Regions from separate parts of the Homo sapiens genome. Here region 1 is linked to region 2. Evidence: fine-mapped expression QTL. A gene starts in region 2. The other region holds a variant in brackets. All regions are shown on one strand. Distances are between the middles of the regions. Region 1 overlaps HGD (homogentisate 1,2-dioxygenase). Region 2 holds the start of HGD (homogentisate 1,2-dioxygenase).

Region 1 (8,580 bases), 38 kb before region 2:
GCTGCCTTCTGATCACACATGCAGCAGAAACACAGCACATTCTCCAAGTAGTGCCTTTTCAACAATTTTTAACCTAACTGTGAGGATCTGTGGATGTCAGCAGTTCTCAAACAATCTGGGCTACCTTCTGTTTCCTGGAACAGAGAGTACCTGCTGTGATGCTTCTCCAGGTAATTTCAGCCTAGAGGAGCTTGCAATAGACACAGTGCCTGGGTTGGTGAGTCCAGGAGAGGGGAGAAGGCCTCTAAAAGTTCCAACTCCAAGGACTTGAGATTTCAGAGCAATCCTAACATAATACTTCCTGGTCCTGTCCTGGGGTAGAAGAGGATCAGTGTCCTGCTATAGGAAGGTGGTCCCTTCTGTATCTATGGGTCCGAAAGTGCTAAAGATTTTAATGAAGGCGCTACTCATAGAGGCGTGGTTAGGGTTAACTGGAATGACTAGAAATGTTGAGGTATCTGAGCCTAGCAATAGCGGGAAGACACTGCTATTCCTGGGCATGTGGAATGAGGAGGGAAATATTGTTATAGGACTTTAGCAAGAGCTAGAATTATAAAGAAGGGTGTTACCCAGTGGTGTGCTGGTAAATATTTCACAACTAGCACTCTGAAAAAAATACATAAAGCATTGACATATAGTGTTTACTGATTTCTAAGGTGTATACAGTCTCACCATGATGATTTTCTAGCTACCAGTATGACATCAACAAATACACAGTTGGACAGAAGCGTGCATATCAGCTTTTGCAAGTCACTATGAATCAGCTCCAGCCCACCACTAGGGCTACCCAACAGGAACTGAGGTCATATGGGGGATGCAGCTACTGTCAGAAACACAGTCCTAAACAGCGAGGAAGCAGGGGAAGAAATATCCCAATTTGTCTTTCCTCCTGCCTTGTAGTTTCCTGTGGGTTGAACCCAACAGAAACCAGCTGGCTAGGGAGCCCGGGTGATACAGTCAACCTTCCAGGGCACAGATCATGGCAAAGAGGGAGAATGGATCAGTGGGGACTCACACAGAAAATAACCAGCACAGGGTCCACTTGGAAAGTGCAAACCTTTCGGAGGAGCTACTGGCTGCTTCTACAATTGTGGTTCTTTAACAATTGTATGTAAACAATGATCTGGGGAACATGCTTAAAATGAATGTAGGTTTCCATGTCCCATCTCCAAAGCTTATCATTTTTTGCAAGGCTAGAGTAGTATCTAAGGATCTGCATTTTTTTTGAGAGGGAGTCTTGCTCTGTCGCCCGGGCTGGAGTGCAATGGCATGATCTTGGCTCGCTGCAACCTCCACCTCCTGGGTTCAAGCGATTCTCCTGCCTCAGCCTCCCAAGTAGCTAGGATTACAGGTGTGCACCACCACATCTGGCTAATTTTTGTATTTTGGGTAGAGACGGGGTTTTGCCATGTTGGCCAGGCTGGTGTTGAATTCCTGACCTCAGGTGATCCGCCTGCCTTGGCCTCCCAAACTGCTGGGATTACAGGCATGAGCCACCATGCCCAGCCTAGGATCTGAATTTTAAACAAGCCTCCTTGAGGATTTCTGATGCAAATAGCCCCCGAATTTTGAGAGACCTTGACCCAGAGAATAAGAGAATAACAATATGTCTGCTTCAGGGGTTAATTTTAAGTGCCAAACTGGTTGGCCTCGGCTGGTTGGCATTATCTCTAGATGCTGCCTAAGAAGAATAACATACCTTGGAAAATATAAGGAATAAGTCAAATAGACAAAATGAAGCAAACAAATAATGCTAAACAGAAGAGATCTTTGGGTTCTTCTTATTATATGATTATTTTATTCTAATATATATTCAGTACATTTAGTAATATATTATGTTATAGAGTCCATATTACATTGTTGTTATTATTATTTATTAATATCTGTGCCTTTGCTTGTGTCCTGAATTGCCAGCCTGGTGGTACAAACCAAGCCAAGCTAATTAACTGAATTCTACTTGTTTTGTAGAATTGCTTGTATTTGAAATAGGGTGGTATTGGAGACTATAAATCTTGGCTGATCTGTTAACTCATTTACTTTTCAGAACATATTATGCTGCCCATATATTATGTTTTCCATACCACTTATAGAAACCTACATATTGCTAATATTTTCATTGCTTGGTGAGTAGAAAGGGCACAACCTTTGGAGTCAGACAGATATGGGTTCAAATTCTGGTTCTGCCACTTACTGTGAAATTGGTAAATTATTTATCATTACTGGCCTTTTCCATGACTATGAAAGTATAATTGACTACTAGAACTATTTGCTTTATTTGTAGTGCCGTAGTGGTATGATAACAACGAAAGGATATATGTAAAGTTTGTAACACTCGCCTTGGCAATCAGTAAGTGCTCAATCACTCTTCATTTCCTCCCTTGCCTGCCAACCCTTTTACTTTACCTGTTTGGCAGCAAACAGCTTGCCCTGGTATTTATTAATGACCGTGTAACCACCTGGTACTTGGCGATCCTCATACCAGGCAATGGGTATCAAGAAATCACGAGGATTGGCCAAGCCATTGGCCCCTAGAAAACAGTAACCCAAAAGTCTTTTAGAAACTTCCAAAACATAGGAAAGATGCCCATGGTTGCATGAAGAGAAAGGCTTTCTTTCATGTCAAGAGCTACTCCACAAATTGCTTTCATTGCTCAAAGATTCACTGCATTTCCAGTCTGGTACCTTTTAGGAAGACCCAAGGAATCTGGTCAGAAAAAAATTCACAAAAACCAGCATTACTTTCTAAGGTTGTGGAGTGACTATGGTTAACAAAACAATCTTATATGCATTATCTTATCACTACAGGTGAGGGGAAGGGAAGAGAGAAAGAGAACTGAAAAGAGGAAAAGGGAAGATCTGATAGAACTCCAGAACTTTTTCTTTTGAAGGAACCCTTGAATATTCTAGAAGTCATTGACAGTCCTTGATCTCAGATAGAAAGGGTTACACGCTGTTGCCTAAGGCATGCCTCTGCTCCCTAGACAGAACTCAGATTCCAGTCTGAAAACGGTTCTCCAGCCTGAAAAACCCTGTCTGCCACTCAGGAAGAAGTATTTAGGACCTGCCTGCTTACCTTTGCTTAGGAGTGAGTGTTTCCTCCAGAGAAAGGAAATAAATCAAAAGACCAAACATGAAAAACTTAAGTGCAAAAACAGTTTAACTCTGAGAGGAGCGAGCTGAGGAGTGTTTTATCATTTCCAGCTCCTGGACTTAAAAAAATAAGTCCCCGGCTGGTTAGCAAATTATAGATATTTTCCAGAGGGTACATGTTCCACGGAACCTGGAGGCTATGCTGACTATAGAGCAGCAGGAAGCCAGAGCAGAGTGGGAAGAGTGGGAGGTGAACAGGATGACAGACGGCCCACCACGGCTCCAGCTGCCTCTTGCTGCCTCCCACCTTCCTCTGCATATTTGGATTCCTCAGAGGAGCTGACCAGAAGGCACACACTGGCCTGTCCCTGTTTGCTCTAAAAAGCTGTTGACAAGGAAGGGAAGAATTGGGAGATGTGACCAAAGAGTAAACCAAGGGCCAATTTTCCCAGCCATTTCTTTCAATCCAAGAGACAGTTTGAGAACAACCCCTCCTAACATTTTCACTTCCTCCAGCTTGCCAGAAGAATGGGGGCTGTGGAGACCTTGGTTCACTTTGGAATGTTTTAATCTGCCTCCTGGGGTGTGGTTTCTAGATCTCTCATAGCACTGAGTGATGTGTTTTTTTGACTGCTAAGTGTGTGGATTTGGTGGGGTGTACACAGAGGTTCATAGACTATGTGTCACCCAGTCCATCCCTCCTTTCCATAGGAATACAGCCCAGGGCATTTTTATGGCCTTCCCATTTTATACAATATGCAAAACAAAAAGCAATCCAAACCAATCCATTATAAATCTCACTGACTTAACAAAAATATCTTCCTCCTAATCACAAAGCTTATTCTCACTTATATGCTTTTGCAAAGCTGTTCCCTTTCCTCTTTACTCTCCTCAACTTTTCATAAAGAATTAGTCAAATTCTCATCTCTTCTGTGGAGCTGTTTCTGGTGACCCAAGCCCACAGTAACCCAAACTTCTATATTCTTTCCTGTACACACTATGCAACCAGAAATCTATTACATGCCGTCTTTATCTCCAATGTCTGTATACTATTCTAGAGAGATTTATAATGGATTGGTTTGGGTTGCTTTCTGTTTTGCATATATTTTCTGGGAAGACACTTGGTCTAGAGAAGAATTTGTCTAGAGAGAAAAGTGGAAGTTTGAGTGAGACAGCGAAGGGAGAAGGATGTTTAACTTTCATGCAATTATCTGAGTCCTACATCTCAAGCGAGGCTTAGAGGCTTGTAATGAAGATTTACCAATTGGTCCAAGGTCAGGTAACTCAAAGTGGACACCATAGACCTCCAAGATGTAGCCCCTGGTCTCCTCAAAGACATCTATGCTGAACCGCATTCCTCTCTGGAATGGAAAGCAGACACTGGTGTGCCCTCTGAAA[T/C]CACAGCTGTAGTTATAAAGAAGCTGCCCAGAGCCATAGCCCATCCCACATGCAAAAGTAAAGCTCTTGTTTGTTGAGCTGCTTGGGAGGTGACCAGAGCAAACATGAAAAACTGAATTTTTTTAAAAAGAAATTTTTAAAATTCAGTTTAAAAAGAAAAACTGAATTCCTAATCACACATGTGACCCAAGCCAATTCTAGTCTACCCTCTCATTGGGTCCAGAGATAATGGTAAGCCTGATTTAGCCACACTAAAAAAAAAAAAAGTCCACCTTCACTGCCTCTACTGCCATTAGTGGGAACAGGGCCTTATCCAGAGTATATGTAAATATTTAGGAAAGTGCAATGACAAGTGGTCTTTCCTTTAGAATTATGTGCTATATTAAAAGAAAGCAGGCACCCAAGCTTGCTTACTCTTCAGCACATGGAACCTTCTGCATAACTCAGATTCCCTCCTCGTTGCCCAGACATGACAGAGAAATTTTAGAGTTGGAAATAGCAGCAGCTGAAACATCTGACTGCTCCCAAATTAGTGAGAGGCAGGGAAGAGAAGGGGACACATCACCAACCTGAATGACGCAGATCTCATTGGGCTGTACAAGCATCTTGCCAAACTCGGTGTAAATGAGAAGGTTCCCTTTCTGCGGAACTGACAAAAAAAGACAGGGCAGTGGTGAGCAATTCTTTTGGTGTGATAACCATTTCATGAACAGGAAAGGCTTAAGGCTGCATTTGCTTTTCCATTCCAAATGCAAAGAGCTTTATTGAGTCTCTTGGGGAAAAAGATAAATTCTGACAACTTAGATTAGCTATTTTCCTATCTAGAAGAATGTGAATAAAACAATGACTCTGCTTTTTTGGTCACCAGGCAAGGAACTTGTATATGCACAATTTTGTGACATGGTCAAAAAGGGGTAGCAGAAATAGGATGGAAAATCACCCATTTCTGATAGTTCCAGTGAAAGGCTGACATTTGCTTGTGTGACATATACACGAAAATGTTGATTCCAAAATATTGATACTAAAAAACCATCAAGTATAATAGGCAGACCAGAACAATCTCTGATAGACTTTACATTTTAGATGGTCTCATGAAAATTTGAATTTAAATTGCAGTTACTAATGATAAATGGGCTTTTACTGAGAGAGTTTCAAGGCAAATACAGTTACCGTAATAAGTTAATCCCATTAGTATTAGTCTTCATTTCTTTTCAGCTGCCCAGGTCTCCCACATCAGAAAGGTCCAGAAGAGATGGGCAAAGACAGAGAGACAAGGAAATAGAGTAGGGGCTTTGAGGTACACTAGAAATCTTTTCCAGACCACCTGTGGCCTCTAGACCTCAGTCTCTGGATTGCACTAAATGAAATAAGACAGATTGGAGAATGAAGGAAAATAATGTGTATAAAATTAGAAAGCAGCTTGCGGTTAGGGGTCAATTAACAGTGAGGGGGTCTGAAGTCTTCAGAACTCACCAATCAAGAAGTCCCCATCTGAATTGTAAAAGCATCTGAAACATATAGAGTAATTCTTGTGATTTTCAGTTTTAACATTGTCTAGACAAATTACGTCATAACACAAATCATTGTTTAGTGCCTATGTAGCAAGCTCAGAGCTGGGTATAAAATGGGGAGCAAAATGACCCAGGCTCTGCCCTTGTGGAACTTAGAGTCTAGTGGGGAGTCAGAGAGCAATCAAATAATTACAGAACAATATCTTTGCAGACTGTAATGACCCTGTGAAAATCAAGTTTGAGGGAATGAAAGAATAGCGACTTGGTTAGTTTGAAGAATCAGCAAAGGCTTCTTCAAAGAAGGGACACATTTGACCGGATATCTGAAGGTGTTATCTAGGTGAGGGTTTGGAGAAAGGAAAGAATGTTCCAGGCAGAAGGAACAGCAAGTGCAAGTGCTTAGAAGGAGGGCACGCGGCAGCTTGAAAGAAGTGAATGAAGGCCAATGCGGCTCAAGTGGAGAGAGGGGAGGTGGCCTGATATGAGATTTGACCCAAAGAGAGGCCTCCAGAGCCTTGTCATAGGGCTGTGATCTTGTCCCTGATTCATGGCTCACAAGGTCGCTCAGCCAGGAAATGTAGAGTTGGGCTTTGGACACAAATGGTCCAGTTCCAGAGGTAGTGTATAATAAGGCAGGAATGCCATTTGCATACTTTGTTTTGCAAAGCCAGTATATAAGCTCCTCTACTTAAGAATTTTAAGCTTACACAGAGCTGTTAGCTGAAGCCAAAGTCGGGTAGCCTGCTACTAATGGGTGGTCCTAATGGAAACTCACACACTGTGACCTGGGACTCAAGAACAGCCCTGGGGAACCTTAGAAATTAAGGATATTCAAAGGCACATGTTCTCAGGATCTCCTGAGGGCTGGGTCATGGGTCACTGGTCACTCATATTTGGCTCAGAATACATCAATTCAAATATTTTACATATTAATAGTTTGACTATTTTTGTCAACAATAATTTGGCACCTGGACACATTGGGCCTCAGAGAAGACTCAGAACCCTGAAGGAGTTGCCTGAACTCAGAGCTAAGGTATCAGCAGGGACCTATTGAAAGCGCCTTCAACTTTGGGCTTCTCCTCTGATGGAACTGTTAAGTCCTCCTGAGCCCTGTTTGGTTGACAGTTCTTGATTTTTCCCTCCTAGGAAGCTCTTGTTTAGGTTCCTAATTCTAGTTCACAGGTCCATTCTAAAGGATTTCTCCATTGTCTTTTTCTTCTTTTTCTTTTTTTTTTTTTTTTTTTTTGAGATGGAGTCTCACACGGTTGTCCGGGCTGGAGTGCAATGGCATGATCTCGGTTCACTGCAACCTCCGCCTCCCGGGTTCAAGCAATTCTCCTTTTTCAGCCTCCTGAGTAGCTGGGATTACAGGCGCCCACCACCACGCCCGGCTAATTTTTTGTATTTTTTAGTAGAGATGGGGTTTCACTATGTTGGCTAGGCTGGTCTCGAGCTCCTGACCTCGTGATCCGCCCACCTCGGCCTCTCAAAGTACTGGGATTACAGGCGTGATCCACTGTGCCCGGCCTCCGTTGTCTTTTTCTAAAGACAACAAGAATGACTCCCTTTTGGGTACCCTGTTTGGTTTCCAGTTTGGAGGTGTATTCTAAATGGTCTACTCCATTGTTTTTTCTCCCCAAATTTAGCTCAGTTGGCTTGCCTGCGCATTCGTGTGACTGTCATTTTTGTGCATAAATGAGAGACTGAGCTCCTCAGCTCTGAAGAGAAAGGGCATTTTGTTCTTCCCAACTGAAAGGCACCCTGGGTGACTAGGGGCTGAGTTGCAGTGTCTGAGGGATTCATCCCCTGTGATGTGCAGTGGCGCTACAGGGAACCCCCCCAAAAATAGTTTTGTCCCGGAAATACATATAAGAGCTGATCACTTGGCATTTTGAGGCCTCTCAGAGGTGCTAGATCTCTGGAGAGAGAAACTGAGACAGGTAAGAGGGTGGAAACGACTCGGTGGTGAAACACTGTGGAGTCCTGCCTACATTCAGTACACCAATCCACCACCCACAAAACCCCTAGGTCACAGCTCAGTTCCTCCTTTTAAGAAAAAAAACGTGGGAAACAAATAATCTAAGAATGAGGAAAGACAAGGAGAAAGGTGCCTCTACTTGCAAGTGTTTGTGTAAAATGGAAAAGTTCAAGGGTATGCCAGAGTTTCTAGTACTCCAGCTGGTTACATATTACAGTCTGTTGTGCACATTTTAAACCAATGGGAAAATTGTATCATTCAGAGCCCAAAGGTCAACCTGCAACTACAGAGTTTCTAAGTTCTCTATTTCTCTGTTTTCTTTTCTGCCTGCTTTAAATCTGCTGTTACTTTTCTACTGAGATAAAAACCACAGTTTGGATCTAATGTACACCTTATATGTGTTGACTGATGTCTTATGCCTCCCTAAAATGTATAAAACCAAGCTGTAGCCCAATCACCTTGGGCACATGTTCTCAGGATCTCCTGATGGCTGTGTCGCAGGCCATTGGTCACTCATATTTGGCTCAGAAAAATCCTTGAAATATCAAACAACAACAAAAGCATATTTGGACTCAGACTTAAAGTCAAAATGCCTTTCGATCT
Region 2 (15,800 bases):
TTAGCTGATTTGTGGGTCTACACTGTAACCTCCCTGAACTTGAGACTCCATTTCCCTTTCAAACTCTGGGAAAAAAAAGAAAAAGCATCTATGAAGAGGTGTGTGGGTCCAACCCTGACAGCAAAACCCTCTCCAAACTAGCCTTGCTGTAGGCAGAAGCCTCTGCTATCTGCCTCATCTATGGAACACATCTATATTTGTGCGAATGCATGAAAATAAAGTTTAAAGATATGGGTGGCCTTCAGGAGACACGCCAGCCCAGCATCTTTTCACAATGACACAATGGAACCTACTCTGATTGCCATCTCTTCACTTTACACCCAGAGGAAAAAAAAAGTTAAAGGGTTTCTCAACCAGGTAAGTCATGGAGAGCCCCTGAAACTTACTCTTGCAACACTCAACACACTTGTGAGTTCTTGTGCACTGTCTGGCTTTTTTGCTAGCCTATAAGCTGCATGAAGGCTGAGACTATGGCAGTCTTGGCTCATAGAAGGTAATCAGTGGAAATTTGTCGATTGATTGAATTTTTCCCTTAAAGCCAATTCTAATGTAAGTGTATGTGTGCTGCTGTAAATAGGGTTAGAACCCTTTTTGCTCTAACTTAAATACCAATTGATTTTAGCCCAGGATAATGAAAATGCAGTCTTGCTCAGCAAGCGAAATGTAACCATCTGAACACAGCTCCTTAAGAGATATAAGAAGGGTGGAAGTGGGTGAAGGGTAGGCCCTCCAGAGTTCTCAGTTGTTGCGGGAAGTCTGGGACTCCAAACGGAGGGATCAGCTGAAGCCATGGCAGAAGTTCGTGGATTGTGAAGATTTCATGGACATTTATTAGTTCCCCAAATTAATACTTTTGTAATTTCTTATGCCTGTCTTTACTGCAATCTCTAAACATAAATTGTAAAGATTTCATGGACACTTATCACTTCCCCAGTCAATATCCTTGTGATTTATGCCTGTCTTTACTTTAATCTCTTAATCCTGTCAGCTGAGGAGGATGTATATTGCCTCAGGACCCTGTAATAATTGCATTAACTGCACAAATTGTACAGCATGTGTGTTTGAGCAACATGAAATGTGGACACCTTGAAAAAAGAACAGGATAACAGCAATTGTTCAGGGAATAAGAGAGATAACCTTAAACTCTGACTGCTGGTGAGCCAGGCAGAACAGAGCCATATTTCTCTTCTTTCAAAAGCAAATGGGAGAAATATCGCTGAATTCTTTTTCTCAGCATGGAACATCCCTGAGAAAGAGAATACGAGCCAGGAGGTATAGGCTTATAAACAGCCCCCCTCCAGGTGCGCCTGTCTCTTATGGTCGAGACTGCAGGGGTGAAATAGACCCCAGTCTCCCACAGCGCTCCCAGGCTTATTAGGAAGAGGAAATTCCCGCCTAATAAATTTTGGTCAGACCAGTTGATCCTAAAAACCCTGTCTCCTGATAAGATGTTATCAATGACAATGGTGCCCGAAACTTCATTAGCAATTTTAATTTCGCCTCGGTCCTGTGGTCCTGTGATCTCACCCTGCCTCCACTTGCCTTGTGATATTCTATTACCTTGTAAAGTACTTGATGTCTGTGACCCACACCTATTTGCACACTGCCTCCCCATTTGAAAATCCCTAATACAAACTTGCTGGTTTTTGTGGCTTGTGGGGCATCACGGAACCTACCGAAATGTGATGCCTCCCCCGGATGCCCGGCTTTAAAATTTCTCTCTTTTGTACTCTGTCCCTTTATTTCTAAAGTTGGCCGACGCTTAGGGAAAATAGAAAAGAACCTACGTGAATATTGGGGCAGGTTCCCTGATACTCAGTGGCGTGGAGATGTAACAAGCCTGGATGTGTGAGTGATGATCAGGCCAACAACAGTCTGTATTTGGAAGAAATATCAGATGTGAATGTTATGACCTAGGAAGCAATGGAAGTGAAAAATTATTCTTTTTGCCTTCAGACTCAATATTTTGTATATTTGAAAATTTGTCAACACAAAAAATACTAAGTTGTATACTGATTTGTTAAAAGCAGCAGCATGCAGTTAGGATGATATCTTTGGGGAAATGGCAGAGACCATCCAACATTCTGATTCTCCACTGCATCCAATTTTCTACTCTCAAAATGAACCCCATGCTCACCATCAACGGGATTGAATTTGAGCTGCTGAGAATTGGTAATAACCCCAAATTATCTTCAATTCTGTGAAATGGAATTTTAGACCAGCCTGTGACTGAAGCCACTGGGCATTACAGTGCCTTCGCTTTGTTCAACTGCCGCATTGTTTCTCTCTGCAAGAGAGGAAGGAAGGCTGGAGTACAGCTGAGCTTTCTGGCAGGCACTGGTGGAGTTACTCATTAACCTTCCCCATTCTTTGTAACTGGTGGCCTTAGAAGAGGGTTCAGGGTTATGTGTTTGGAACACGAGTTAGTATAAATGGTTCTGAAGCACTTGATTCAGACTGTGCTTTAAAAAATAGGAAAGAAAGTAGAAAGAACAGCTGATGGTTTGGAAGGGAGCCACCAAGCACCAAGAGGTGTGAGTTCTGAATCCGTTTCTCAATCTTAGCTGCAGGGCATTGGCTAAAGAGGAAGGTGAAAACTGCTGAGTCACTATCAAATCAATTGGTTTTTCTAATCCCCTGAGAGAAAAAGTACAGAGTTTATTGCAGCTTTAAAATGCCATGCCCCTCACGGCCAAAGGCATCTGAATTAAGGAAGCAGTATTCACAGCTGCTTTCTCCAGACATTGAGCTCAAGGACAGAATCTGAACTCTGCTTTTATCAGCTGCGAAAATCCAAGCATTCATTTCCAGCTGGTTCAGTGCCTATGTAAAAGTATACTGTGTACAAAAATAAGATTAAAAAGCTAACATTAAGCAAGTGTGTTTGTATGTTTTCTACAGTTCGGATTTCTGAATAATTTGATCCGACAGAAAAATATGATTTCATTTCTTTTCGAGAGAATTATATGCATACTTTCTAAATGCAAGAATAAATTCCTGAGCTCCATGTGACTTCAGTACCATCAGCTCTTTGGCAGCTTATGAGTATACAGCTTTTTAATTCTCACCTGGTCCCCAGGATATGGTTTACTTGTCAGAGTAGTTTTATGAGGTGCTTTCTCCTGACTCTGATTCTAGGTAACACCTGATGAGATGAACAGATGGTGCACCTCACTTCCTCTTACTGGGCATGAAGGAAAGAGAGAGAAGTCAGGGTAGAGATGAAACTACTGCTACATTTTTTTTTTCTGTGGAAAAAGAGTCTAATATTTCTAATTAACCTTGATGGGAACATAGAACATAGATTGTAAAGGGAACTTGCACATTATCGCAGTAGGCTGAATAATGGCTAATGGCTCACTCTGAAAGATATGTATGGCTTAACCCCTGAAACCTGTGAGTATTATCTTTTCTAGCCAAACAGACTTTTGCATATATAATTAAGGATCTTGGGATGGGGAGATATCCTAATTATTTGGGTGTATCCTAAATGTAATCACAAGTGTCATTATAAGAGGGAGGCAAAGGGAGATTTGACTTATAAGAGGAGAAAATGTGACGTGATTACAAAAGCAGAGATACATTTTTTTGAAGATCGAGGAAGAGGCTACAAACCAAGGAATGTGGGTAGCCTCTAGAAGAGGAAACAGAATCCATGGAAAAGGCAGGAAAACACAATCTCTCATAGAGTCTCCAGAAGAAACAGCCACACTGACACCTCGACTTTAGCCCAGTGAAACCGATTTCAGACTTCTGACCTCCACAACTTCAAGATAATACATTTGTGTTGTTTTAAGCCAATAAATTTGTGGTAATTTTTTACAGCAGCAAGAGGAAATCAGTTACGTAGAATAGTAGGTCCTGTCTCTGGCTAATCATTAGAATCACTCCAGAAGCTTGTTACATACAGACCCAGAGCCAGTGAATCAAGGATTTGGTGGTGGGGCCCAGAGCCTGAATATTAAGCAAGTTCTTCGTTTTAGAAATGAGGAAACCAAGGTTGGGAGAAGCTAAGCAACTTACTCAAATACATAGGGTATTTCATTTTAAATTTAATTTTATTACTTTATCTTTTGAATTTTCTTACCCCAGTTGTACTTTTGTGTAAATGTGATTTCATTTACGGCTTTGTGTTGACATATTCATTAAAATGAAGAAATAAAAGATGAGAAACAGTTTTAAAAATTATATAATGTTTATTGATTAGAATGAATATGATGCAATCTGGTTTTCTGTGTTCAGATTCCTGACCTCTGGAGTTAACCTTTCTTTGTAAAGATTAGACAGCAGGCAGGGAAGAATGCCTTTGAAACTGAGAGCAAAGACTGGCATGCAATTTACATTGATGTCCTGGTGCTGTGCATAATAAGTTGCTTAAACATGACAGCAGGATAGGATTTTACATAAAATTTATTTATAAATGGTAAAGATGTTTCCAACCTCTGCTGAACTTCCTCATAGAATGTTCATCAGAAAACAAAGTTTCTATCTACTCTTTCTTCCAAGACTTCAACTCCTACCACTGACATCATGACCCTCAGTTCTATTCCCCTAGCCCTGCCCACTCCCCTGAAATCCAGATCCATAAATCCAACCACCGCCTGGGTATCTCAGTTTGGCTGTCCCTCCATCAACTCAAATTTGGCTGACACAGTTTTGGATTCTAGAGCATGCAGGCATTCTGTATGTGCTGTGCCTTTGCACTCACTCTTCCCTCCAGACCCCGTCCTTCCTCACTTTGCCAGTTCCAACTTCTCTCTGAAGACTCAGTTTAGGTACAGGCTCCTTTAGGAAATTTTTTTTTGACTCTACCTAGCCCAGACTCAGTTCATCTACGATATTAATCTGCAGTGTCATGCACTAGCACAAAATATTTGCTGAATGAAAGAATGAGAGTTAACTTTTAGTCAGGCATAAAGATAAAAAACCAAAGTCTTTTACTCCGGTGTGGAGTGTTTTCAGGATTCCTACCAATTAGGAAGGTGTTTGATTCTTCAAACTCAGAAACACCTCCCCTTAACTGATGGATTCTTCAAACTCAGCATCAGTTAGAGGGCATTAGGGCACTTCTCAAACCCTGCATTCAGGGAAGATGTCTGTTGTGGGGTGGTCTGGCCTACTTGGCCTGAGCCAAGGTTCTGGGCAGTTCTGTTCAGTTACACATGCATGCGTTGAGCATTGATTCAAGCCTGGCCTGGGCACTAGGCATGGTTTTAGATATTAGGGACATATTCTGTTTTCCTTGCCTTAAGATACCAGTCTAGTAGGAGCCACTAAGGCCCCTTTTTGAGCCTGGACTTCGCATTCAAACATACCCTGCTTCTAATCAAGTCATCTATTGGCAGTGACCTTGGGCAAATCATAGTCTCTCCAAGCATTACTTTTCTAATTGAAACAAGAACCTCTCTCTATACCCCAGATTTATTTTGAGGATTATGAGTTAATTCATAGCTAAAATGCTTAGCACCTAACAGCACATAACCCACACATACTTTTCAATTGCGTATTACTAAAAAGAAGGAATGATTTCCTAGAGGAGGTGCTTCTTCTGGCCAAGGGCTGATTCAGAGCCTTAATTAACTAAATAGATCAAGCATATCTAACTGGTCACCGGAAGTGGTCCATGAGGCTGCAGCAATGGGAAGGTGTCAGAGCAGGGGTTGGGAAAAAGACATAGAGAGAAACGTGCATGTCCGTAGTGGAGGGGAGCTCTTAGGATGTCTACAGATTTCCAAGACAATAATTGAAATGAACAAAGGCAAGGGATGACCAATAAGAGCTTCATTTCTTTCCTTTATCACCTTTCCCTTGTTCTTCAGCTCCAGCTGTGCCCACAGACACCACAGGGAAGCCTCTGAACACAGGGGTTTGAACCAGGGCCTCTCTAAGTCTTTTCCAACTCTGATACCCTGAAGTTCTCAGAAACTTCCATAAATTTTGGCTGAAGAAGCCATAGCAAACTTGTCAGATGGTTTCTTACCTTTAACTCAGCCATTTTCTCTCTCCTCTATGTGTGGTGACTTCAGGAAACCCAGGCCCAGAGGATATAAAGCCACAATGCTTCTTTCTCCTTCAAACCACTCTTTGGATATTCCGGTTCCCACTGCTTCACTGCGCTTCACTGGTCAGTGCGTCACTCAAACTAGCTGAAAGAATTGTCTAACTCATACACAGGGACAAAGTCCAGCAAGCTTATTTAACCGGTTACACAATTGCCTTTGGTTTTTACAGTTTGTTCCTAAGTGTTTCCAGAGGCTTGGTTCCTCTTCACCTGAGGTAGAGATTGACCAATTATTTATTCCAGTTAAAAGTAGGCTTATTTCAAAAGGCAGAGAATTTGAAGCTATCGGGGAAAGGAACTGTGGCAGATAGTGCCTGCTGTGTGTGGTGGAGGATTCTCTGCTCAGTCCTGACTCAGGCTAGGAAGGAACAGGGCAGTGCTGAGTCTCCTGGAGAGCAGTGAGAAAACCCCCAGGCATTTACCAGCTGCAGATGTGTACACTGGGGTAAGATGTTTACACACAGCCACCTGAAGACAGGGACCAGGACCAGAACCAGTTTTCTGCAGGTGCCTCCCAGGAATGAGCTCAGGTTCTTGGGTGAACCATTCAGAGCCTGAGATATTTCACTTAGAGCAAACTGATATGTTTCCTACTGCTCCTTTTAATTTCTTAAAGTACGTTTAGTTTTCTTATAAATTCTTTAAGAGTTTTGTTTCCTAATGCCTCTATACTTCTAAAACAGACCAAGGGATTATTCTCCAGCCACCTCCTCTATGACTCCCTTGTTCTTCATCTTGGCCGCTCTCCTTGGTCATTGGCAGGTAGCAGCTTCATGACTAGTGGTGTTCAGAAAGGAGAAAACATATATTGAGTTTCTGCTTTTGTCAGATTTTTCCATATCTAACTTCACAAAAACAATCTTGTAAATTAGGCATTATCACAACTCAAATGCCAACAGATGAGGGAGGAAGTGTAAGTGAATAAAGTAGGCTAGCTGATTTTTCAAGATAAGATGAAGCTCCAATTTTTAACCATTGGTAATTAGAGTGAGAGAGACAGAGAAACCACCCTGTGGTAGATGGCAAAAAATGCTCCAATTCCTCCTATCCTTGTATGTGTGCCCCTTTGAATGTGACTTTGCTGTTCCTCCCATCAAGAGGTAGGGTCTTTTTCTTTGGCTAGTAGCAAACATGACACAGAGTTTGAAACATGCCTGTGCCTTAGGACAGGGCCCATTCTTGCAGCCTGAGACCACAGTGCAGAGAAGCTGGGCTGGCCTCCAGAGGTCCAGGCAACAGCCCTGCAAGCCCCACAGGAACTGCCAGACATGTGAATGAGGCAGTCTGGCTGCCAGGTGACTGCAGAACATGTGTGATCCCAGGCAAGACCAGCAGAAGAACCACCAGTTAAATCTGGCCCGAACTGCTGAGCCACAGAATTGGGAACAAATAGAATGGTGTATTTCACACTACTAAATTTTGGGGTGGTTTGTTAAGCAGTGATAAATAACTGATATAATCATGCAGGTTGAAAAACATGTGCATATTTGAAGTGGCCACAGGCTGCTAGTTTGAGACCCTCTGCTTTAGATAAATGGGCTTAAACAACCTCCAAGGGTCCCCAGGCTCCAGCATACTGCAGTAGCAGCAGAATTATTGCCTGTGTATGAGGTGCTAGCACAGACTGGGCCAGACCAAAGGGGACATGTTGATAGGAAACATGCTGGTAGCAAACCATGTGGACTGATGCCTACGGACCGGGCAGCTGATAGGAAACCTCAGCATATGTCAGCATAGACAGATGGCATTGTGGCATTATATAAACTATTCTGGAATTCATATGCAAACCTAGGAGGAAGGTAGGTGGAGGCCCTAGCTTTATTGAGGCTAAGTTTTCACTATTCCTATAACATGCAGACTCTGAAACTGAATTCGAAGAAAATATCTCCTGTGTATCTAAGTTTATGAGTACCTTGGGCCTTCAATCTCTATTGATCTTGGAAGTTAGCAGTTGGTCATTAGATAAACAAATGGGAGCTAATAAAAGACAAAGGGAAATCTTTACTGCCTTATTTTTCAACAAACTTTCTATGTTACTTCCATTGAACCAGTTGTGAAGGCAGATTTAAGAAGTGTTTCAGTTCTTTCCTAAGGTATGAGAGACTTCTGAAGGGGTAAGAAAGTGTTAACAGTTCCTTGACTGGATTAAAATTACTTTGAGGGGCTTGAAAATATTTAAAGTTGAATACATCTTTCACTAAACTTTAGGGATTCCTTCTAAAAGGAGAGAATACACACAGGGGATATTAAAATATTATTTTATTATTTAATTTTTTTTTTGAGACAGGTTCTCTGTCATCCAGGCTGGAGTGCAGTGGCACAAAAATGGCTCACTGAAGCCTCAACCTCCTGGGCTAAAGCGATCCTCCCATCTCAGCCTCCTGAGTAGCTGGGACTACAGGCACACACCACCACACCCGGCTACTTTAAAAATTTTTTAGTAGAGATGAGGTCTCGTCATGTTGCCCAGGCTGAACTTGAACTCCTAGGCTCAAGCAATCCTCCCACTTCAGCCTCCCAAAGTGCTGGGATTACAGACGTGAACTCCTGCACCTGACTTAATGTTTTTTTTTAGAGACAGAGTCTTGCTGTGTCATCCAAGCTGGAGTGCAGTGGCATCATCACAGCTCACTGCAGCCTTTAACTCCCAGGCATAAGCCATCCTCTGGCCTCAGCCTCCCAAAGTATTGGAATTACAGGCATAAGCCATCATGTCCTGCTGGGATTGGAGAATAAATAACTTACACAGCTACAGATAAGTTCTGATTCTATGTCTAATGGCTTTCCATTTTAATTAATGTAATTATACATTCATTTATTTAACAATTTTTGAAAACCATCACAACATAGTGTAAGTGCTCTGACAGGAAAGAGCCCAGGGATCTAGGGGAAGCACTAGTGGGCACGTAGCCCAGACGAGCAGAGCCAGGGAGGGCTTCCCAGAGAAGACTATGTCTGAGCCAAGTCCCATAGAGTAAGAGTTGGATAGAAAGTGGAAAACATTACATCCAGGAATTGCTACAAGGTAATGTGAAGCAGGGTGTGACAGGTCTACAGAGTAATCACTCCAAAACGGAGTTAGGCATCAGAGGACTCCAGGACAGATGTCTCCGAGAAAAAGATGGAACGGAGAGATTACCTGATATACTTGATGGTACTGAGCGAGGTTTTACACCTTGGTTGGAGTTTAGGGGTTCCATTCTTTGTCATTAGTTATTGATGACCTCGGTAAAGCTTAGTGATTAGCCAGCTGAGAAAACACAGTACTAGAGAGGGGGCTGTGTGTAAGATGGCAAGGCACTGGTTAGAAATAAATATATTTGGATTAAAAACAGAACCCAGGGGAAAAACAGTGGCAGTAATAAAAATGATAGCAATACATGAAAGACAAATACTTGTTTTGCCAACAGAAGACATGACAATCATCTCATGTTTAATTTGGCATATGTAGCTTTGAGTGGGGAGGAGTGGATCAGTTCATTAAGGTGAGATCAGGTTGAGGCAGTCAAAGATGCGCTTTGATGAATTCTGCTATAATGGCACTCATAAAGTACAGAGTTCACAATCTATATTCCCTACTTTTTGATGAGTTTATTTGTCTTTCTTAAAGGCTAGATCCTGACTTATCTGCATGAGAAAAATCTGGCTTGTCTGTTAAAAATACAAAATCCTGGCCTTATCCTATACATATAGAAAGGGGAGAGTAAGGGAAGAGAGAGGAAATCGTGGAATCTGCATTTTCAGCAAGCACTTCAGGGGATTCTTACACACTTCAGAGTTTGAAAGCCCTCCATGTGAGTCCTTAATGGAGGTGCAGATTAATTGTAACTGGATGTCCAATTCCTTTACTATGCTATGGAGCAGCCCCAGCTGACCCTAACATCAGATATTTTGTGTAGGCAAACATGTTGTGAAATATTTGAGACACAGGGTTAGACTTCCTGCGACCCTTCCTCTCCCACCACAGTGATTTAGCTCAGTCTTGGGACTGCGGAGAAATGAATTTCTAATTTCCTTCTCCTCCTTTCCCCAAAACAGACTCCTCCTTTGAATTTTAACATATATTAAACCAATGCAGACACCCTGTTAGACCTTTAAACTTCTTAAAATATGATGTCACCTGTGCTTTAAAAAATTCAATTAAGCCACCATCTAGTAACCCATACAAGGTCCTACCTATGGTGGGTGCTACTGCAAACTATTGAAATGAGGACTCAGAAACTCTGATTACAAGGAGCAATTAGGAGCTCTTCACCTCAGTCTGATGTCCCTGCACATCATTTCCATGAAGTCCATGTCAGAATGAACAGAAAAACAAGTGTCAGGGCACCTGGATTATATCATGAATGCCTCAAGTTTGAGGAATTCTAAGAACCCGAGCTAAAGCTAATATGGATCAACTCTTTTGGGAATAGCTTTTCTTAGAGCACTGTAGCGGAGAAGAGCTTTCTTTCTTCACCCATCACTAGGTTCACAAATGAGGCACCTATAACGAAAGACAGATTATTGAGAAAAGCACACACATTTATTTACTGTAAGTTTTACATGACAGGAATCTTCAGAAATGAAGACAAAAAAGAAATAGGAAAACTTGTGTATTTTTATGTACAGTCTTATGCAGAAGTATAATCAGAGGACAAAAGGACATAATCTAATGGTAATAAACTGTGGAGAACTTAGCAAGTCCTATTTGTCCAGATTCTTCTTGGTGTCTCTGTATCTGTGAGGATAAAGGGTACCTATGGAATGAAGGTTTTATGATCTACTTCAGGGAACAGTCACTTAGGGTTTATGGCCTGCTTCAGGGGAGAAGGGGTAAGGGGAAGGTATGAGAAACCTTGCTTCTGCAGTTTTCTCAAATAACAGGGTGCAATATTTTGGGGTTATGTGTCCTGAATCCCATCAACGTTAAGATGGAGAGACCAGCCCAAATCTTTAGTTGGATTCCAGCTAAGTCTTATACACCTAAGGGACAGAGGAGTAGTCATATATATGCCTTCATATCTGGTCACCTTCACAATGAGTCAGAAAATTGGTCAGACACCGAAATCACAACAGAAAAAAAAAATCTTTATTTCTACCAACTTGTCCCATCAAGAGAGTAAGATATACATATGTAAAGAGATGGAGTCCCACTCTGTCATCAGGCTGCTGGAAGGCAGTGGTGCAATCATGAATCACTGCAGCCTCAAACTCCCGAGCTCAAGTGATCCTCCTGCCTCAGTCTCCTAGAGTGCTGGGATTATAGGCGTGAGCCAGCACCTGGCCAATTATACTTTTAAAAAAATATTTTGACATTTATACTTGTTTATTATCTAAAAGCATTTTTATGAATAGTTCTCAAGAAGTCCTAGCAAAAATTGTGCTTCATTCTTTTTTGAATAACTCTAGCTAATAACATTCATTTGCGCAAAAAGCCTTATTATGCTGCTGCTAATAATTGCAACAAATTTACCTTAGATTATTAAAAACTATTTTTTCTTAGAAAACTATAATTCAAGGAATCAAGCTTGGCTGCAGAAAGTAATGGAGTTGAGGAATACTGTTAATTTTTCCAGATTGACCCTGGAGTCATCAGCAATAGTTTACTTTTATTATTTATTTATATATTTATATATTTATTTATTTATTTTCTTTTAGTTGGAGTCTCACTCTGTCACCTAGGCTGGAGTGCAGTGACACGATCTTGACTCACTGCAACCTCCACCTCCCAGGTTCAAGTGATTCTCCTGCCTCAGCCTCCCAAGTAGCTGGGATTACAGGCGCGTGCCACCAGGCCTGGCTAATTTTTGTATTTTTAGTAGAGACAGGGTTTCCCTATGTTGGCCAGGCTGGTCTCAAACTCCTGATATCAAGTGATCGACCCGCCTCCCAAAGTGTTGGGATTAAAGGTGTGAGCCACCGCGCCTGGCCTATTTTTATTTTTTAAATAAGATAGAAAATAAAAAAATCAGGATGAATTTTTTTAAAATTAAAAGAAAGAGGAAGAAAGAAGGAAGGAAGATTTATTTCTTGAAGGAGAAATACAAAGAGCTTAATTGGGTTAGGTCTCTGGGTAGCATTTGGTTTCTACTTCCCAACTGTACAGCCTATGCAACAACATACTTGTGACCAATTCTACATACAGATCATGATTTGCATAGCTTTCCTTTGTGTCAAAAAGAAACCAGGGCTATGTCCTTTCAAAGAGGAAGTAAAGAAAGGCTGGAGAACAGTCTAGCTGATGAAAGCTGCTTTAAAAATCCTTTTCCAAATTCCCAAGACTGCCTTTCTAAAAGGACTCTCTAACATTCTTATTTTAATATCCTCTTGCAGCATACCTTGATTTCCAAGATACTTCTGAAACCTAATTAAAATGGAACAGAAAGTGAATTTGGTGTTTTCCACCTATTTTTTAAATGAGAAATGAAAACTGTATATTTATTATTGTTATTTAAAAGTATGGAGCAAAATCAGGAGTGCAGAGACCTGCAGCAGAGCCAGAGAGAGAATACGGGTGATAGAGTGTTGAATAAATTGTTTTTAGAAATCAAATTCATATACTCAGGAAGAACTGGGGCAGAGAAGATTAAGCAAGCAAAAAGATAGGTTAAAAAAAGTAATGATGAACAATTACGGACACACACACACACACACACCATCCCCAAAAAGCTTTGGAGTGATTATGAAATCCAAGAATCCTAGTTCATAATTCATGTAAATGTGTTGCTGTGGAACTTATTTTTACTTCTCTCCATAAATACATTGTTGACACAGAATAATATTCTTAGTTTTCTGATTATAGCTAAGGGACATTTCAGGAGTTGACTTTTCCTTAAAAAAACAAATAGAGAGGAGGCTGTAAATGTCTCTCACTGCCCTTGTGCAGGTCTTAGATTTTACCCTACCTATTTCCAAACAGAAAACCTAGACTGTATATAGCAGCAACCTTAAGAGTGAGGGAGCTGTCAATTTTTCACATCATTTTACCAGAATTCTTTTTTTCTGGTATTGCTGTTCTCTATGTATTATTAATTTGTATTTATATTTAACTCTGGCTATTAGTCCGCCTCTTCCAGTCACTGAGCCATTTGCAAAGGAGAGAAGAGGGAGACAAGGGTTGCTATTATTAGGCATTCCTGTGTGTGACAATGGTGGAGACAATTAAATAACACCATTTTGCATCTTTGAAAATGACAGAGATTGTTTGGGGTAGACAACTCAGGGCTGGTTAACAAGACCGTTCCCCTCAAGAAGGTAAAACAATGGAGATACGTTTTTGAAGTACTTAATTAAGCTTTCAGCAATGAGTGTGGGAAAATTACAGACCCATAAAAACCCTCCAGTTCTAGGCAAGAGTAAATTTTCTCTGCAGTACACTGTCATTGCTCATTTACTGCATCATTTTGACAACATCTCATATTTACACAAGGCTTTTACATAATCTATACACAGGGACAGAAAGGTAAGGAACACAGAGAACAGGGACAAAGTTTGGACCTCCCGTATTGTCACTTCCTTTCATTTTTCCATTAAAGGGTAAGGCTGAAGGGTAGCATTTTAAGATGATTTTGTTAAAAGGCTGTGATGGTAATAATTGAACACAGCAAGATGAGCTGTGAAAAACTGCCACTGCTTGCTCACTCTTCCAAAGGATGAGTGTAATTCAGTCATAATGAAGGCTCTTTAATGTTCCTGCCCCAAATCTTTTCCGATCAGGAAAGCCTGGAATCTGTAGGCAAGAAAGATAATTGCATTAAGTCTCAAGCAATAAAAGTTCAAATACTAATAGTAATTTTTCCCTTCTTTTCCATTTCTGTATGTCAGCCTGCTGTTTCTTAAAAAAACAACTTTCTGAGGTTTTACTCAGAAAACCACAGATTAAATAATAAAAATAAATCTTACCCAAATGGAAAACATTTCCCAACAAATTGGTGATAGTGTCATCTAAATCAGAAAGAATGAAGGTAAATCTCATAATACCTACTAGACTTTTATAGAAATTATTTGTATTGTGACAGACCCTGAACGTATACTCTTGGAGTCCCAAGCAAATTATTTTCTTCTTCTATTTTATAATGTAATCTTATTCCTAGATTATATTTGTTTCCTAGATCCTTATTTTCCCTTTGTTCTGATTTTCTCCTTTTGTATTTAACAGGATAGAAGGAAATCAGTTGCTTGTGCCTATAAAGGGCTTTCCCCAACTTTTTAAAACTACTTCTGAACTTAAATTTGGAAATCACCTATCAAAATTTAAGAATCTATTTTATCAAGAAAAGAGATACCAACCTGATTACCTTCTCTTAAAAAGTATCTCTTCTCTATGACCTGTGAAAAACAAAGATTTTAAAGGCTTAGCACACATACCTGCAAAAAGTGGCTAACTGCAACGACCACTAATGGTACTAAAAGGAATATATCCAAACTAAGAATCTTTTCCATAGCAGTAGACATGTAGTACAGTCAGCTAAAAATCTGGTGTTAATGAGATCAGAATTGTGAGAGTATTTCCATAAAAGCCTGCCTCATTCCAAAACGCATTAATGATAGATCAAAAAATAAATGAATAACAAAAACTAAATAATGATAGAATGATATAAGATCCTATGCAATTCTTAGAGTATGACAGCAAATCTGACTCTAAGTTTCCTAGCAGTCAGTCCCAAAAGGTACTAAACAGCATCCATAAAATAAAAAAAGCACTTGCCTGCTACAATAGTCTTGTCTATTTCTTAAAGAGGGGACTGTTTAACATAGCAAACCACCACATCCCTATAGTAAGTGGTGACAAATTCTATATGTCCTCAATATAGACAGATGACACAACATCAAAAGCAGTCTAATGACTGTTGTAAATTGTCTACTTTTTTTTAACTAACTGCACCCTTACTTCAGTAGTTTCAGAATTACCTGCATTTGATAAGTAGAAAAAACATGTTCAAGCAGCAGATGTATCTGCACAAATCCATCACCATTATTGAAAAGAAACCCTCAAAATATATGTCCAAATGTAATAAGTTTAAGAGCACCATGTTTTCATTTTTTCCCAAAACTGCTGTAAACCCTAAAGAGCACCATGTTTCCAGATGATGAAAAACATTTTCAAGAATAATAAATTCTGTTCTGACACTTGAGAAACTGCAATGGTTACAGAGGAAGTATTATAAATGGTCTCTGATTTAGGATGGCTTGACTACGATTTTTTGACTTTATGGTGGTGTGAAAGCAACATGCATTCAGTAGAAACTGTACTTTGAGTGCCCATACAATGGGCACTTTTTTCACTTTCAGTATAGTATTCAATAAATTACATGAGCCATTCACAACTTTTTAATAAAATAGGCTTGTGTTAGATGATTCTGCCTAACTGTAGGCTAACATAAGTGTTCTGAGCATGTTTAAGGAAGGCTAGGCTAAGCTGCGATGCTTGGTAAGTTGGGTGTAATAAATGTATTTTTGACTAACAATGTTTCCAATTTACAAGGGGTTTACTGAGATATAACCCTATCGCAAGTTGAGGAATAGCTGTATTTTCTTTACATAGACCTGCTGTGATAAGAAAAGTTAATCGGATAATAATACAGATCAGCTGGAGATGAACTCTAAGACATTCAAATCTGAAATTATGCAGCTAAGAGTTCCTCTGAATGAGAACAGACCAGCTTGCTCTCTCTGGTGCCACAGCCATTCATCCAGATTCAACACCAAGACCATTCATCCAGATCCAAGACCAAGACCAGCTTGCTCTCTCTGGTGC

What was found. PIP is the estimated chance that this variant, and not a neighbour inherited with it, causes the effect.
Region 1: its variant is the best candidate, but not a certain one, in a credible set for the expression of HGD in whole blood (TOPMed, PIP 0.75).

Annotation. Positions count from the first base shown.
Region 1 is chr3:120,641,916-120,650,495 of GRCh38, forward strand. HGD (homogentisate 1,2-dioxygenase) reads right to left here. Exons shown (of 14, transcript NM_000187.4): 7 at 5,962-5,996; 8 at 5,058-5,137; 9 at 4,352-4,451; 10 at 2,404-2,528. Among named protein-coding and RNA genes, the nearest start is that of HGD, 36 kb to the right of the region's middle. RefSeq lists an enhancer at 1-1,081. The variant T/C (reference allele first, on the strand shown) is at 4,489.
Region 2 is chr3:120,676,117-120,691,916 of GRCh38, forward strand. It overlaps HGD (homogentisate 1,2-dioxygenase), which reads right to left and starts at 6,123. Exons shown (of 14, transcript NM_000187.4): 1 at 5,981-6,123. The coding sequence starts at 5,995. RABL3 (RAB, member of RAS oncogene family like 3) reads right to left here. Exons shown (of 8, transcript NM_173825.5): 7 at 14,333-14,371; 8 at 8,822-13,772. The coding sequence ends at 13,707. RefSeq lists an enhancer at 891-1,841.